Linked DNA regions of Homo sapiens: region 1 is linked to region 2. A link means that fine-mapping ties the variant in region 2 to the expression of a gene that starts in the linked region. Tissue or cell type: testis. Region 2 holds a variant in brackets; the other region holds the start of a gene. All regions are shown on one strand. Distances are from middle to middle.

Region 1 (8,184 bases), 32 kb before region 2:
TGCATCAAAAGATTCCTCTGTTTCATGTATCAAATCAGGTCCTAAAGAACAGAAGTCCATGTCATGTGAAGAGTCAAATATTGGTGCAATTTCAAAGTCAAGCATGGAGTTACCCTCGAAATCTTTCTTAAAGATGAGGAAGCACCCAGATTCAGTGAATGCTTCTCTTAGGTCTACTACAGTTTATAAACAGAAGATCTTATCTGATGGCCAAGTTAAGGTTCCCTTGGATGATCTGACTAATCATGATATAGTAAAACCAGTTGTAAATAACAACATGGGCATTTCTTCTGGGATAAATAACAGGGTCCTTAGGAGACCATCAGAAAGAGGAAGGGCCTGGTACAAAGGTTCTCCAAAACATCCTATCGGAAAAACTCAATTACTACCAACAAGTAAACCTGTAGATTTGTAATTGGTAAATGTTATACTTGTCATTAATGTAAATAAAGTGAGTAATTGGTATGACTTGCAGGATGATGTACATGTTAGTTTGTAGCTCAGGATGATTGTTAAGCAATAGATTTGCTCTATTGAAAATGTTTCATTTTTTTCACTGTACAAGCAACTTAGATTTTTATTTGTACAAATTACTTCTTTGTTTTTCTTAATGATGGCAATTTTTAAACTTTAATTTTATTGTGATCTCTTAAAGCAGAGGTTAGACTTTACCTTTCTGACTCTGTCGTCCAGGCTGGAGTGCAGTGGCGCAATCTCACTGCAAGCTCCACTTCCTGGGTTCATGCCATTTTCCTGCCTCAGCCTCCCGAGTAGCTGGGACTACAGGTGCCCGCCACCACGCCCAGCTAATTTTTTGTATTTTTAGTAGAGACGGTTTCACCGTGTTAGCCAGGATGGTCTCGATCTCCTGACGTTGTGATCCGCCCGCCTCAGCCTCCCAAAGTGCTGGGATTACAGGCATGAGCCACCACGCCCGGCTAGACTTTACCTTTCTAAAGAAATTGTTTACTGGATTTATAAGAAGTTAATTTTTGAAAATGACATATTTTTGTGTGATAGAAAGAATGGAGCAAGTTGTGCCTATTTCCTCCAAGTCAGATAAGGTTTCTAAAATAAATAAATTTCTAGCATATAAAGGGTAGAGATAAACTCTGCAAATCTTATGTCTGGAATTATATTAATGTTTATTGTCCTTGCCAAAATTCCTAGAAATTAATTTCCTTCAATAGCATCCTAAAACTCTATTTTTATTTGGGGCAGAGTAATTTCATTTATAGTGCCAGTAGGTGTACCTTGTGTTCACTCGAACTAAGAACAATGGTTAAGGCAGAATAATGACTAAAATATGTTCATATATTATGATGTGGAAATAATTGATAACTTTTAAGCCATACTATGTTTTTAAAGATAATTTGCACAAACACGTTTGTGTCTGTTCTGTCCAATATAGATTTGGCAATTATTTAAAGAGGGATAATCTTGAAAAAAATTAACCAAGGTGATTTCTTATATGTAGATGCTCGATTTTGGAATTTGAAATAGTAGATGCACCTCTTTACCTTTTTTACTTGGATAAAAACCTATGATGATTTTGTCCTGTGTGTAAATGTTATTTATTTAGCATAGACATTAAAGATAACTCTCTGGAAAATGACTTGACTAAGGCTCTCATGAAATTCAAAGTGCCATTTAGAACATGCACCAAATTGTCAAGTAAATCTGTCTAAATTTATATTTTAAATTATTACAAATTACACATCTTTGAGGAAAGAGTATTATGAACAATAGAACATATTCTCTAGGTTGTAGAGGAAGGAATAAGCAGACAGAATCAACCACTAAAGGTAGTTTTTCAGATTGGTTGTTAGAATGTCATGTTTAGATGTTGGAGCAGATTAGAGCAGCATTCATGCCACTCGGAGCAACCAGACTTACAGCATAAGTATGTACGAGGAATTTCAAATCATCAGATGTTTGCTTGGCTAGGTTCTACTTTGTTTATTTGATATCAAATAGGTTTGTAGATGTTTATGGCATTTCTAATTGTAAGTAGAGACAAAATATTCATATAGTCAGATATATGTTGTCTGCTTTAAACAATTTTTAAATTTTAAAAATGCATTAACGTCTTTTTATATCCATCAAGGGAAGGATGAAATGTTGAATTTGAAGACTAATTCAGTAAGAAGTCCTAGGGGTTTAACTGTACATACTACCTGAACTGGCTTTTCTGAGAGATGAATCAATAATGAAACATGTCTGTTTTAAAAACTACCACATGTGACTCCTATTTTTGTTAGCTGAAAGCTGCTATACGGAGTATTACAGGAATGTGAAGGTGACTAGCTTGAAGGTAGGGTAACTAGAGAGCCAGAAAAGTTTTGTTTTAAACTTGATTTAATGCGTTTTTATTTTTTCTTATACAAAATAGAGATAATGTTGCTAACTTCATGGAATATTTGAGGAAATGATATGAAAGTGTCTGGACGTGCAGTAACCTCATGGGTTCTTCTCACTGTCTTATAAATGTAAATAAAGATCTAATATTAATTTGGTTATCTAATAACAACTTAATACATAGAACTTAGTAGACTGCATGGCCACATTCTATAATATGATCACTAAGAACTTAATGTAGGATTTTAATAGTCATGTTTTTCTTAATTGTGGCAGAATTTAAACCTTAATTTTGTGATCTTTTTTAGTTAGTTTGTTTTTTGTTTTCTTTTCTTTTTTTTTTTTTTTTTTTTTTGAGGCGGAGTCTCACTCTGTCGTCCAGGCTGGAGTGCAGTGGCACAATCTCAGCTCACCGCAACCTCCATCTCCCGAGTTCAAGCGATTCTTCTGCCTCAGCCTCCCAAGTAGTTGGGACTACAGGCATGCACCACCACGCCCAGCTAATTTTTGTAGTTTTAGTAGATACGGGATTTCACCATATTGGCCAGGCTGATCTCGAACTCCTGACCTTGTGATCCTCCCACCTTGGCCTCCCAAAGTGTTGGGATTATGGGCGTGAGCCACTGCACCTAACCTCTGTGATCTCTTAAATATATATGAAGTTTTATTTTTGAAACACCAAATTTCAAATGAAGCATAGGCATTTTGATCTATTTCAGTTAAATTTAACACAAAAGCAGTAAATTGTAGTGACTTCATTTTTTTCAACCACAAAATGAAGATAACAATGAACAAAGCTAAAGTAAAACTCAGAATTGAAAAAAGTCTCTGTGCATCAATAATAAATACTAACTCCAGCATGGCCAGTGAGCCTAGAGCCATTTAATGGATAGTGTTTGTCCTGTTGATTTAGCATGCATTGAAACAAGAAGCAAGAAGCAGATGAGCATCCGTGAAAGAAAAAGTACTGGGAAAGAGGCTTGGCTTCAAAATGAAAGGCCATGTGTCTCATAAATGAATTTTGCCAGCCTCTATTTATTGCATAAAAATTGCTGTAGATGATAATGGATTTGCTCTCTAGAGCTAAGATAAATAGATCTGGATTCTAACCTCATCAGGTTACTTGTTTTGAGACCCCCAGGTTCTTTACTCATCCTCCATCTTGATCAAATTTGTAGTGCCATATTTATTGTATGGCTTTACATTTTGATTTTAGTATTTGAACAAATTTCAGTGTTCAAGATTGCACATAGTAGGTGCTCCATAAACCCTTATTTAAGAATCTGGGACTACCTGGACATACTTCTACAGTATGCTGGGAGTATGGTTTCTCTTCAGGCCAAAGTGGAATTTTACTTGATGGTTTGTGTGGACGTTTAGAAATAACACTCAGAGCTGATATTTCTACAGATTTTCAAGTTTATCACTTTAATGGAAGTTTCTGGCTTCTTGTATTAAATATCCCCATAGTTTTCCTGATTAGTAAGAGGCCCCTCAGAGCAGGGTATACCTTATCATAGCCACCATTAAAAGTTCTTAGGACTTCATCTTTTGTCTCTCTACCATTCATTGCCTCTTCCCTCTTGAAGCTGAAAGGCTTTAGACACAAAAACAAAAAACATATTCTAGAAGTTGACAAAATTAAAGGTGTGCTGTAGTGGTGATCTGGCACGTTGTAATTGAGACTGAGGAGGTGAATGACTTACATGGAGGTCGATGGAGCTGAAGAGGGTCTCTAGGAAATGTCATAGTCAAGAGGTTTGTATGCAGAATGTGGGGGTTGAAGAGCTGTGCGGCTCCTGGTGAGAGGCACACTTATCTGGGATGCAGTCTGGGGAGTCCTGGCGAGGCAGCTTCCACCTGCTGGAGGAGGGGCCGGGGCGGAGCTAAGATGCGGAGGAGGGTGACGCACTAGCTCTCCAGTTCGCCCGTTCCTGGCCTGACCCCCACCAAGGCCCATACCGCAGTAGGCTCCTCGGGCTGCCCCTCGGTGAGTACAGTTTTGATGTCGGCTCGGCCGCCTGCCGCCAACCCGAGATTTGGTATTGCCAGTTGTGGGAGGGCGTCCTGCTAAAATCCTTGAGGTGGAGGCTGGGGTCAGACGAAGGATGCGTAGGGGATTAGAATGTTTGGCTATCAGTAAGGGGAAGGGAGTACTGAGGGAGGAGATTGTGTAGTTCATCAAATCAGAGCGGCGTTTGCTGGGATGACATCCTGCATTCAGAGTGGACAAGGGAAAGATGGAGATGGAGAGCCTCGTGTCTGCCTCCAGCCTTTTCCATCAGAATTGCAGATTTTGCTGTTAAACAGCTACTCTCAGCTCTTTGGAGAGCAAGGTTTTATATCTAGTGGCTAGAAAAGGCCTTTTCTTTGCAGAAAAAGAAATTGGAGGGTATAAAAATTTTTGTTTCAGTAAAGGAAATGCACGATTTTGCCTCCTCCCACCTCTCCATCCCCCATCCTCAGTAGAAGAATGATTAGAAGGAGGGTTTGCGCCGGTCCTGGTGGCTCACGCCTGTAATCCTAGCGCTTTGGGAGGCTGAGGGGAGGGGGTGGATCACCTGAGGTCAGGAGTTCGAGACCAGCCTGACCAATATGGTGAAACCCTGCCTCTATTAAAAATACAAAAATTAGCCGGGTTTGGTTGTGGGCGCCTGTAATTCCAGCTACTCGGGAGGCTGAGGCAGGAGAATCACTTGAACCTGGGAGGTGGAGGTTGCAGTGAGTCGAGATGGCGCCACTGCACTCCAGCCTGGGCAACAAGAGTGAAACTCCGTCTCAAAAAAAAAAAAAAAAAAAAAAAAAAAGGGTTTGCAAGGCCGCTGCCTGAAGCATGCATCCAAACACGTTAAGCAGCTGTGGGGTAAGCTGCAAGGATAATGTTCACTTGTTTTGCAGACATACCCATAGAAACCAACATTTTGGACAGGTTGACCCTCCCACCCCCAGGCTAGTTAACTCCCTCTCACCACCACTGCCTCCCCATATTCTAACCTCCAGAACTGTTAAGGCAATGTTAGCAACATAATAATAGCAATATAGGGGCTCATTCTGTGCCTGGCATTGTCCTAAACACTCTTAACATGTATTTGCACACACCCTCACAACAACCCTAAAAGGTAAATGCTTTAATTATCTCCGTTTTGCAGAGGAGGAAACTGAGGGACTTGCCTACGATCACTCAGCATGTGGCTGAGCAAACAAACCTCAAACTACCCCAGCAGATTGCAGGGCTGGATCTAAGGAACATTTTCCTTCCTTTCAGGATCGCAAACGTATTGGATGTTTGCTAAACTGAAATGTTTCCCTGCCACCACTCCCAACCTTCCTGAGCTTCTTGATTTGTGTCTTCCTGACTCCCTCCTGTTAGACTTTTATTCCCAGAGACTGGGAAAACCCAAGATGCCACTATCTCTTTCTCAAAATGTAAGCAAGTTTGGTTTATTTGTTTTAGTAAGAGAGGGAGAGAGTGATGAAGTTAGGAGTAATGCAGAACTTTCAGGGAGCTACAAGGAGGATAAAAATTATGAGTGAGAACCGCCATTCCAGCCTAGCTTTCTCAAGAATGCAAACAGAGGGAATTGGATACCTGCAACTGTTTTGTTTAATACCTTTCTGCAATGATGCTCTGCCTAGCATGGAAACTTAAGACAAAAGCAACCTCCTAAGGATTCTTTGTTACAACCCCTTTCTGGGTGGTCCTCGAACCACAACCTGGAGTGGTTGCATCATTATAATTGTATTATCACAATTGCCGATTGTAGCCTATCAGTATACATTTGGTCTTTTATCTGCAGGTTGACAATGGTCTCCAGGATGGTCTCTACCATGCTATCTGGCCTACTGTTTTGGCTGGCATCTGGATGGACTCCAGCATTTGCTTACAGCCCCCGGACCCCTGACCGGGTCTCAGAAGCAGATATCCAGAGGCTGCTTCATGGTGTTATGGAGCAATTGGGCATTGCCAGGCCCCGAGTGGAATATCCAGCTCACCAGGCCATGAATCTTGTGGGCCCCCAGAGCATTGAAGGTATTTACTGTGTTCTGATGGTTTGAAGTTTCCGTTAGCATTTTAAATAATATATTTGCACACTTCTCACAACAACCTTATAAGTAGATGCCTTTATTATCCTATTTTTTTCAGAGGAGGAAGCTAATTTTTAAGAGACTCTACTTTCTCATGGTTTTCCCTTTCTTCTTCTACACAGTGTCTACATACTTACATATACACACCCACATGAGACTATAAGTCCTGTGAGAGCAGGGACCTTATCTATCTAATTCATAGCTGTAGCCCTAGCACCTAGCACAATGTCTGGTACATAATAGGTGCTCAATTAATGTTTGTTGAATGAATGAAGGAGCATCTAGTGTTATCACTAAAGAAAGATTAGAACCCAGACATGATGTTTTCTCCTCACTGCTGATCTTCAGGAAATTGTGTCATCAGATAGCTGCCTTTTGAGTCAATGCCAGCCAGTACTTGTAAAAGAGCTTCAAAATGTAGAACCTACAGGATCTGACTTGATTCCTAGGAATGACTCCAGTATACCCAAGAGGAGACAAAAGAGGTACTGACATTAAGAGTTTACGTGAAAGCTTTTGAAAATATTTAAAAATATAACAATTTTATTAAATAATAAATTAAGAATAATTAAATCGTTTTAAGGTGGCAAGACCATTTTCCCCCTGAAGTTTTCCAAGTTTCTGGCAATGTGGTCATAATACTTGTATTAGAAAGCAGTACTTCATTTGTTTGTTGTTTAATGATTTGTTTATAAAGAGAATCTAGCTTCTATGAGCTGGTGATGCAGCGTTAGACAGATTCCTTATTTCCATGCTTTGCTTTTTATCCTCTGATTCTAATGATCTCCTTCTCCACTAAGGCAGAATCCTAAAGAAGTAGCATGGTTAATTTCAGTTAAATGCAAGGGAGCATTTCCTTATAGTTCAAGGATTTGCCCATGGAGTGGGTCCGAAGGAAAATGAGAATTATCTCTAAAAGCATACCAACCAAATGCTGTTTGTTCCCTACAGATTGATTATGCACTATTTTGCCAGAGTCTGTGATTTTCTAAAAATGCTATCTGCCCTAGGGTTCTGTGAATGCCATGAATATTGTTGATAGATGATTCTTATTTCTGTTTTGTTACCCATAGTTTTAAGCCATTGAGTAAAACTAATTCGGTGAGATTGTAGTCTGTTTAGGTTGACATTTGATTTCAGGAGTGGATTAACACAAATGCGTTGAATCGGCAAGCATGCAAACCTAGCACATGGCTTGAATTAGAACAAATCCGACAGAGCTTCCTGTCATCCCTTTTAGGGAGAATCTCAGTCCTTCTCAGCATCTGTCACCGTTACTTCAAGCACACCTATATATTTCAGGCCAGCTCTTTTGAGACAAACAATAAATATCTACCTTTTTAAGGCAGGAAGTGCTTGGTTATTCACCTAAGCTGTTGTCATGGAGTTCTCTGAGTTTCCACTAATACCTGAGGCCTGATCAGCTGTGCTGGAAAAGAAACAGCCACTCCCGGGGCATCAAAAGCCTCTTTATCCAGAGACTCCATTCCCTCCAGTATCCAACTATTTAGTACCCACTATATACCAGGCACTAGGCAGGAGACTGGTGCAGCTCTGCCCTAAAGATTCACAGTCTGAGTGGAGAGGGAAGTGGGGACACACATCAAAAGTTATGACAGTGCATCCCAGCAGGTGTTTTGATAGATGTACACACAAGCTGCCGCCGTGGAAGCAAACAGGAGTAATTTAGTCTGCTTAGGAGTGGATGGGGTGGCTATAAGGAAATGCTGCTTTGAAGAA
Region 2 (8,184 bases):
GTCATTGCCATTGCCCCTTTTCCTTACCTGGGAACCCGACATACTCTGCTTATCCCTTGAGCTGGCACACCAGGGGGCCTGGAATTCCTGTTGGTGAAGTCACTACTTTAAGAGAATTATCCCAGAAATCCTCTAAGTTGCAAATCCTACAGGAGCAGAGTACTACATGTTAATTAGCACTCATTATCATGTTAGTAGAGAAGCTTACCCAAAGGAATGATACATAGGACCTGCTATGTCATTGAGAACAGAGAGGTGGGGCTCAGGTTCTGGACAAATGATGTCATAAGTAAGTGTAGTTTCAGAAAGGAAGATGAAGTGGGAGCTTTAGATAATTGGAGGCGGTAGGCCTGTATATGGAACCAGATGCTAGAGAGCCCAAGTCCATATTTTTACTTTTTCACAGTTTTGTGTCCATATCCTCACCGAATCCCAACCACCACCACCACAGTTCTATATCCCGTTATTTTTTCAATAATAACTGATACCTCAACTTAAGCTCCACTCTGACCCTCAGCTAAGCCATATAATTTCAGCAAGAATTATAAAATAAAGTTTTTAAAGGACAAACATGAGCCTTAACCTTAGTATAAAGACATGCTTAGCCTTCATACAAATTGCCAAGTTGAGACTTCATTTCAGACGGCAAATAAAAGTTACATGAAGGAGCTAAAAGTGCTATTGCAAATTACCTATTTGAAACGGCTTTTTCAAAACCTGCTAAATTCACACCTCTCCTAAAAATGCTTCACTTCCAGATTATTTTATTTTGGGGTTTTGTGTGTATGTGTTAGAGGGGGTGGGGTTTGTGGTGACTACAGAAAAATTAGTTAAATTCATAGGATAAAATTTGAACTTTTGCAAATGAGTAAACAGCCAAAACAAACACCGCTTCAGAAAAAAAAAAAAATACACGTTTTCTCCTTTTGGAAAGCAAGCAATGCTTAAGCAAAATACCTTAAAAGTTAACTAAAAAGCTTTTCTAAAATAAACAACTCTGCTTGTGATCCTAAATTGGGACCACATGTAGATGTGAAAGCTACAAATGCAGTGCACTCAGAATTTGCGTCTCTGCCTTCACTGTTTGCGTGCCTCTGAGTAGATGATGATAATGTTGGCTTTGGTCCCCAAGGAGCCTGAGTTTTTTAGATCCTAGTATGAGGGGGAAAAGCAGAAGAAGAAAGAGAAGGAATGAAAACAAATGCCTTTCAAGACAAAATATCCGAATGGGTTTCATTTTGCTTATCTGCCAACAGGCTCAACCCAATTTAGATCTCTCCTACAAGGACAGGATAGTGCCAGCCAGGGTGTCTGCCCTTGCCGGCTATGTGGGGCAGTCCCTGTGAGGGACCAGGCTCGAATTCAGAGCAGAAGGATCACTCTAGCAAACTGCCAGGGCCAGCCCTCTGCCCTGAGGCAAGTCAATGAATTAGCCAATTCAGCACAGATAGAATCATTCCTTTGTTTTTCTCAATTACCAAATGCTGTGTGCTTTGGGGGTCACTTGTCATGTGAGTTTAGAGAATGTGGATATTGCAACATAAACCCTCACCATTCTAAACAGCTTAAACTAAATTCTGTTACTAGGGAGGAGAGCTGAGGTGATAATATCCATCTCTAAGTATAAACTATTGTGTGTTCATTTTCCCATTATGGGAGACAAATTTCTCTTCTCCGCTAGTGCTCATGATCTCTTCCACCAGGCACAAACATCAGATGTGTGTTTATGTGGACATATTTTGTCCCCTATTATTGGAGAGCAAGCTCCTTGAGAGAAGGGATTATGCTGCCTGGATTTGTAACTTTGTTAGGCAAAGCATGACTTTATTTAGTTTTGAATTGATGAGGAGGCACTGATGTTAGTAAAAAGCTCAAATGTCCTGAGCCCTGTTGCTCAATACCTCAAACACAGGACCATGATCACCACAATGAAAAATATGCAGGATCATTAATTTCGGCTCTGTTAATTGTGCTGTTAGGAAATGTTGACTAGATAGGAAAAGCAGCTAACGTTCATGGAGTGCTTATTACATACCAGGTACTGAGGTAAGCATTTTACATACAGTATCCGATTTGTATCCTCCCACAAGCATGTTATCCCCGGGTTAAAAGGGGAGGAATTGGGGTCCAGTGAGATTGGGAGGTTATGAGAATCCCACAGTGTGTGGCAGAATGTGGACTTGAACTCAGGGCCCTAACAACAGGAAGCTATAAAAGCCTCTTTGTATAAAAAGTGCTCTCTTTCTGTGGGTCCTCAGTAAATGAAAATATTTGCTTTTCATAAATAGGTTTGAATGTTGGGACCCTCATTTCTCACCAGGAGTCAAGGCCAAAAGGTCTTATAAATAAGAGTGAATTTTGAGAAAGGATGTGTGAAAATGACTCTGTTCTTTTCTTTTATCTCACTTCAGTTACTTGGGATGGAGGAAGCAGAAACTGGGAGTCAGACATCTAAAATATGAAGTTCCACCCTCATGTTGGCCATTTCTTTCAGCCTCCTTTCCCCATTCCTAGGGGCCAATCTGTTTCTCCCTCTCCTGCTCTTTCTCTTTGCCTCTGTCTTCTTCTTTCCTGTGGAGACAATAGCGTGTGGTGGAACTGCCTGAGTGCTTACTGAGAAGGAGAAACCAAGCGCAGATTGTATAGAAGCTGACGAATGAGTCCTCTGATTGTGGACAAGTGATGGCGCTTTTTGTAAAATTGTGTATGTGTTTACCTCAAGTAGTGAAAAAAAAAAAAGAAAAAACAACTTTTGGGGCAAGTTGGACCTTAGGAAGGAGATTTCTGGGTCTCGGGGTTTCTCTTAGCCCCCAGTGCCTGGTGCCTGCGGCCGGTGTCGCCTCAGGGAGTCCCAGGCTGTTCTGTGGCCTCCAGAAGGAGCCACCCCGCCCCTTCCTCGCCCCACTCCGCTTTGCCTTCCCTTAGCCTGGGGAGCCTTGCCGCCTCTCCACCTTCTCTCCTGGTCTCCTCGGGCGCTCTCGCGCTGGCACCTTCAGCTCTGTCAGAGTCTGAGGGGAAACCAAAGGAGGCCAGGCGGTGTCTGGAATGCCCCATCCGACTGCTTCAGGCTCCCAGACCGCTGACAAAAGGAAAACTGGTCCGTCGCTTTCTGAATGATGTATCGAGACCGCAGTGTATTTTTAGCATCTGCTGTTTGTGGTAACATAAGTGAAAACTGCTGGACCCGTTCCCTTCAGCTGAATGGCTGGTATTCAGGGGCCTGTGCCCGCTCCCTGCCAGACGCTCCTCACAGAACTCCCTTTTTACGAGGTGGGCGACTGGCTCCCTGGCACCAGGCTGCCCCACCACAATTCTTTATTGCCCAGCGCCAGTGCCCAATTGCATGAATCCCCAGGGCTGCAGGCAGCGTGAGGGGTGCGAATGGGACGATGCTGGCTGCGGGCTTGTCAGGGTGTTCCCAAGTTGTGTGGCAGAGTCTGGAGGGCAGGGGTTGTCCGGATGTTCCAAACCTCCAGCGTGAGGTGGGCACTCAGGTGCGAAGGAACCATGGTGGCGAGGCCCACAGGTGGCGTCCCATCCCAGAGCCATTTTGCCGGGGCCTGGCTCTGCAGTAGTCACTGACACCGGAGATCCCCTGAGTGACCTGGAAACTATGAGAGACCCCAGGTACCCCGACAGGTCATTCTACTAA[CTG/C]TGGCTGTGGAGCTCCAGCTCATCTTTGGAAGACGGAAACGCACTGGAAAGGGTATGAATGGACGCAGAAGGCCTCGTGGGGGCTCTCTCAGTGCCACTGTAGAGTGAACACAGGGCTGGAATCCAAAATAGCACCAACTTGCTGAGTGGCTTTAGGCAAGAAACCTTTCCCCAGGTCTCACTTTCTCACTTAGAATGATGAATAGTGATTCTTGTCCTACTGACCTCACTAGGACGTTTTTAATAAGGATGAAAGCACTTTGAAACTGTTGAAACCATAACATCACAAAAAAAAAAAAAAAAAAAAGAGACAGAGTGACGAAGTAACGCAGGTCCCATTTATGTTCTTAATTTCTGACCAACCTTAACTTCCATCAAAACTGCTTCCACTAGCCCCAGCCAGGAGAGCCGTTGCATCGTGGTGGGACATCATCAGGCTCTCCAACGGACATCGCTTATACTATGAGAACTCACGTTCAAGGGAGGTGTTTACCTCTAATTCCCACAGAACTAGCGTAAGTAAAAAATGGGGCAGCAGGATCCTTTCCTTGCAAAGTGTGAGCAAGTGCCTCTGTAGAGTAAAACTTTAAGTAAAAGGACTACAACGGCAGTGACAGCTCCTTTATCTGAAACTGCAGACTTTTAAGAAGGTTCTTAGCAGCCACACCGATGTCACAAATTCCATAAAGCAAGATCACCTAGGCACTCTCTCGGAGCTAATTTTATCTCATTTTATATATAATTTTAATAAGCCTGGCTCTCTCATTTTCTAGCCCCTTATTACTGAAAATGTGGCTCATGGACCAGCAGCATCTGCACTATCTGGGAGCTTGTGAGGAATGCAGAATCTCAGGCCCCACCCTTCACCTTGAATCAGAATCCACATTTGGATAAGATCCCCGTGTGTGTGTGTGTGTGTGTGTGTGTGTGTGTGTGTTGTGCGGGGGAGGGTAAAATTAGAAGAGACTTGCAGGGCCTAGGCGCACTCTCAATTTATTGTATTTCATTATGGAAAGGATTTGGGATGACTAGAATTAATAACTTAGAAGGAGTGAGGTGACAAAGAACATTAAAAACTATTGCATCTGGGACCATTTAATATAGGTTTGTTTGTTTGTTTGTTTTGAGACGGAGTCTCACTTTGCCGCCCAGGCTGGAGTGCAGTGGCATGATCTCGGTTCACTGCAACCTCTACTCCCCAAGTTCAAGTGATTCTCCTGCCTCAGCCTCCTGAGTAGTTGGGATTACAGGCGCCTGCCTGTAATTGTATTTTTAGTAGAAATGGGGTTTCACCATCTTGGCCAGGCTGGTCTTGAACTCCTAACCTTGTGATCCACCCGCCTCTGCCTCCCAAAGTGCTGGCATTATAGGTGTGAGCCACCGCACCCGGCCCATTTAATATAGTTTTATATCCGAATGCCCTTTAATACTCTGAGAATACACTGTTACAACACTGTATAGTCATTGATATTCCCAGTAATAGTCCCAAATTATCAAGAACAGGCAAAGTCATATTCTCCTGCTGTTTAAAGTATTTACCTAATGTTCATAGTGGAAAATTCTCCTTTAAAATGGTTAAATAAATCTTGATCTTAAACCGATGCTTCAGTGATCTGAATACTACATGAAACAGCACGTTCTCTCTAAAGAGATAAGTGAGATGGTACTATAATCGGAAACCTCTGTTAATTCGGATTTTGTTTTTTATGCACATTTTAGAGAGTCAAATTATATCAAGATAAAATATGATAACAGAGATTTACTCTAAAATTAAACAATGAAAAAAACCCTACCAGTGCAACAAAAAGGCCATGGCTGTTCAGAGCCAAGTAAAACTTTGGGGGTCAGAAGGTATTTAATTTTCATATTTCTGTTTACTAGGTACTAACAACTGATCTTCAAAATCATAGAGACAGGAAAATGGATTTGAAACCCAAGGGAGTTTTTAAGTAACCAGAAAAGTTAGTGCCCTCTTCTGGACAAGCGATCATTGGAGTTGTTAGAGGTTGTCCTTGGGAGTGCTGTTGGGGGCTTTGTTAACACCGAACAAGACCATGAGTGGCAAAACTTGGAGCTGAGGTTGATCAGGTCTCCAAGGCCAGGGAGAGACTCAAACCAACCAGGTCAACTTCCCAGCTGAATTGCCAACCTCAAAGGGATACGTACAGAAGGGAGAATTGGAGGCACATAGCAGAGGGTGAGAATGCAGAGAAGAGCAGGATGCGGTCAAAAGATTGGCAGATTTTTATGGAGGGTTCCAGCACAGGCCAAGAAAGAGATTTAAGGGTTCTGACTCAAATAAGACCAACTGTCCTTCTTTCTCATTCCCTTGACAATTACATCTGAGTGCAACTTTATTGCCATGGCAATACAAAGAAAGTCTACCAATGATTTGATATCTAGAGCTTAGAAATAAACAGCTGCATGGTACCAATTTTATTATATAAAGCAAAGTTTATATAAACGCAACTGGGCTTAAAACTCATTTGGCAAGAATTAAATATTTTCCATTTATTCTAGAGACATTTTTAGAGTGCCATGGCTGTGGTGGAAACATAAATAAAGCATCATCACAGGACAGGATTAATTAATTGCCTGAAATAATTTCAAAGCTGTAAGTGAAAGATCCTATCTTTATTAATGGTATTCTTTTCTCAAATCAGATTTTGAAACCTCACAAGCTTTTGACTCATCTCTCTCCTGTGCACTGCTAGAAATCTTATTTAACTCATGTTGCAGCCACCCTAATTCCAATCCTTGTCACTTCACTCCTGAGTTTCAGCAACACTCTTAGAGAAGAACTTCTTAATTTCTCTCCAACCTAGCTTTGTACAATGGTCTGTTCTCTATACCACCATCTATTGTCTATACTACAATACATTATGTTGGGAATATATCTTATTATGTACTACTGGCTTATTGTGTTAGTCATGGGTAACCAACTAGAATGAAGAACGAACTAGAGAACAGGAACTATGTCTTTCACATTTATGTCGTCTATAGCACCTAACGTAATTATTGCTACACAGTATGTTGCTACAGGGAGTCTTCCGTGGCCTAGATCTGGGCTAGATACTTCTCCTCTACACAACTGTGACACACTGCCGTATCCTGGTTACATTATCAGTGCATTACAACTGGCTGTATTACGTTTGTTTCTTTTTGTTTCTCTATGAACTATGAGAGCAGAGCCTACATTTATCTGGTTCATCACTGACCCTCTAGTACCTAGCCCAGGTTTTGATTATATATTATGTGCTCAATGCATATTTTTAGATTATTTGTTGTTGGTTAGTGCAGTAAGATAGTTAAGGAGGCTGGGATGAATAGACCAAATGGCATCCATAGCATCATATTATTTTGTTTGACTTGGCTTCAGGTACAATAGATCAATATAACCTAAATATTATAATGAACCAGATAACTGCATTTGGCCCTTTGCAACTGTATAATATTAAAATTATTATATTTTCTATACCTGTTTAATTGTCTATAAAATTCTAGCTCCTGGAGTGCAAAGGACAGCATTTTTTACTTCTGCATATCTCCCTCAGTTCCTACCTCAGTGAGTGTTTCTTGATCTGACATCATTAAATGCAGTTTAAAAAGAGTCTGTGTTCTAATCTGTCTGCTTAGTGCTAAACATCTGTTGCTTCCTAACAAGTGCTGCATTCATTTTAATGGCACTGGTGCACAGAGGTAAACGGAGCTTTGGCAGGCCTTCCATAAGAGAAACTGTTTGCTTCCTTCATTAATTACTAATGGAGCATTAAGACACGCATTCTGCCTTGAGCCAAGTTGGATAATTCCTGGCACTTAATGCTAGGGTGCTTTCAAAAGTTGAGACATGTACTGACACACCAGAGAGCCTGCCCTATAGCAAGCACAGTGGTGTCTATAGTGCCAACATTATATAAAGCTTCAAATATATCAATACCAAGTGTACTGATATGTCTAACCTTTGCATCTATTGGGTTAATGTGGAATCATAGGTATCCCTACACTAGCTCTGAAGGTAGCTATCACAAATGAGCTGGATGAATCATCAGAAAGATACAGAAAGGTTAAAAATAAAAGGATAATCAAAGATTTACCAATTAAACACAAATCAACAGAGTGAGAGTGGCAAGCTAATAGAACTATAAATCAACATCTGATTTATCAATTTATATTTAGCAGCCAATTGCCAACACAATTAAAATGAAACATTTATACCCTTGGATATGCTAACTAGTACAGCATCAAAATGATAAAAACAGTAAGAAATAAGAGAATGACAGTCACTTATTGTTAGTAGTAGATTTTAACATATAGCCATCAGATTATGATAGACTAGAGATAAAATATGAATATGGATATAAAAAGAATATAATTATAAATGTTGATAAATTGGCTATATTTAGATGTTTATGGGTTATATAAAATACCTTATATTACATATTCACATGGAAATTTTACAAAAATAATATGGTAGTTTACAAAAGAAATAGCATTTTTTTTAAATGCAGATATTTTACAGTTTCTCTCATT

Which allele goes with the higher level. Alleles are on the strand shown, and positions count from the first base shown. SD is a standard deviation of normalised expression in the study named.
With allele CTG in place of C in region 2, the expression in testis of the gene that starts at base 4,280 in region 1 is lower (moderate effect, 0.46 SD a copy in GTEx).

What was found. PIP is the estimated chance that this variant, and not a neighbour inherited with it, causes the effect.
Region 1: SCG5 starts here. The variant in region 2 is fine-mapped to the expression of SCG5 in testis (GTEx, PIP above 0.99).

Annotation. Positions count from the first base shown.
Region 1 is chr15:32,637,431-32,645,614 of GRCh38, forward strand. SCG5 (secretogranin V) reads left to right here and starts at 4,280. Exons shown (of 6, transcript NM_001144757.3): 1 at 4,280-4,348; 2 at 6,156-6,388. The coding sequence starts at 6,163. ARHGAP11A-SCG5 (ARHGAP11A-SCG5 readthrough) reads left to right here. Exons shown (of 14, transcript NM_001368319.1): 10 at 6,156-6,388. It overlaps ARHGAP11A (Rho GTPase activating protein 11A), which reads left to right. Exons shown (of 12, transcript NM_014783.6): 12 at 1-2,511. The coding sequence ends at 415. RefSeq lists enhancers at 3,773-4,413, 4,414-5,052.
Region 2 is chr15:32,668,973-32,677,156 of GRCh38, forward strand. The region is part of intron 10 of ARHGAP11A-SCG5 (ARHGAP11A-SCG5 readthrough); the gene reads left to right. The region is part of intron 2 of SCG5 (secretogranin V); the gene reads left to right. SCG5-AS1 (SCG5 antisense RNA 1) reads right to left here and starts at 4,093. Exons shown (of 4, transcript NR_135505.1): 1 at 4,018-4,093; 2 at 28-146. RefSeq lists an enhancer at 1,210-1,742. The variant CTG/C (reference allele first, on the strand shown) is at 3,653.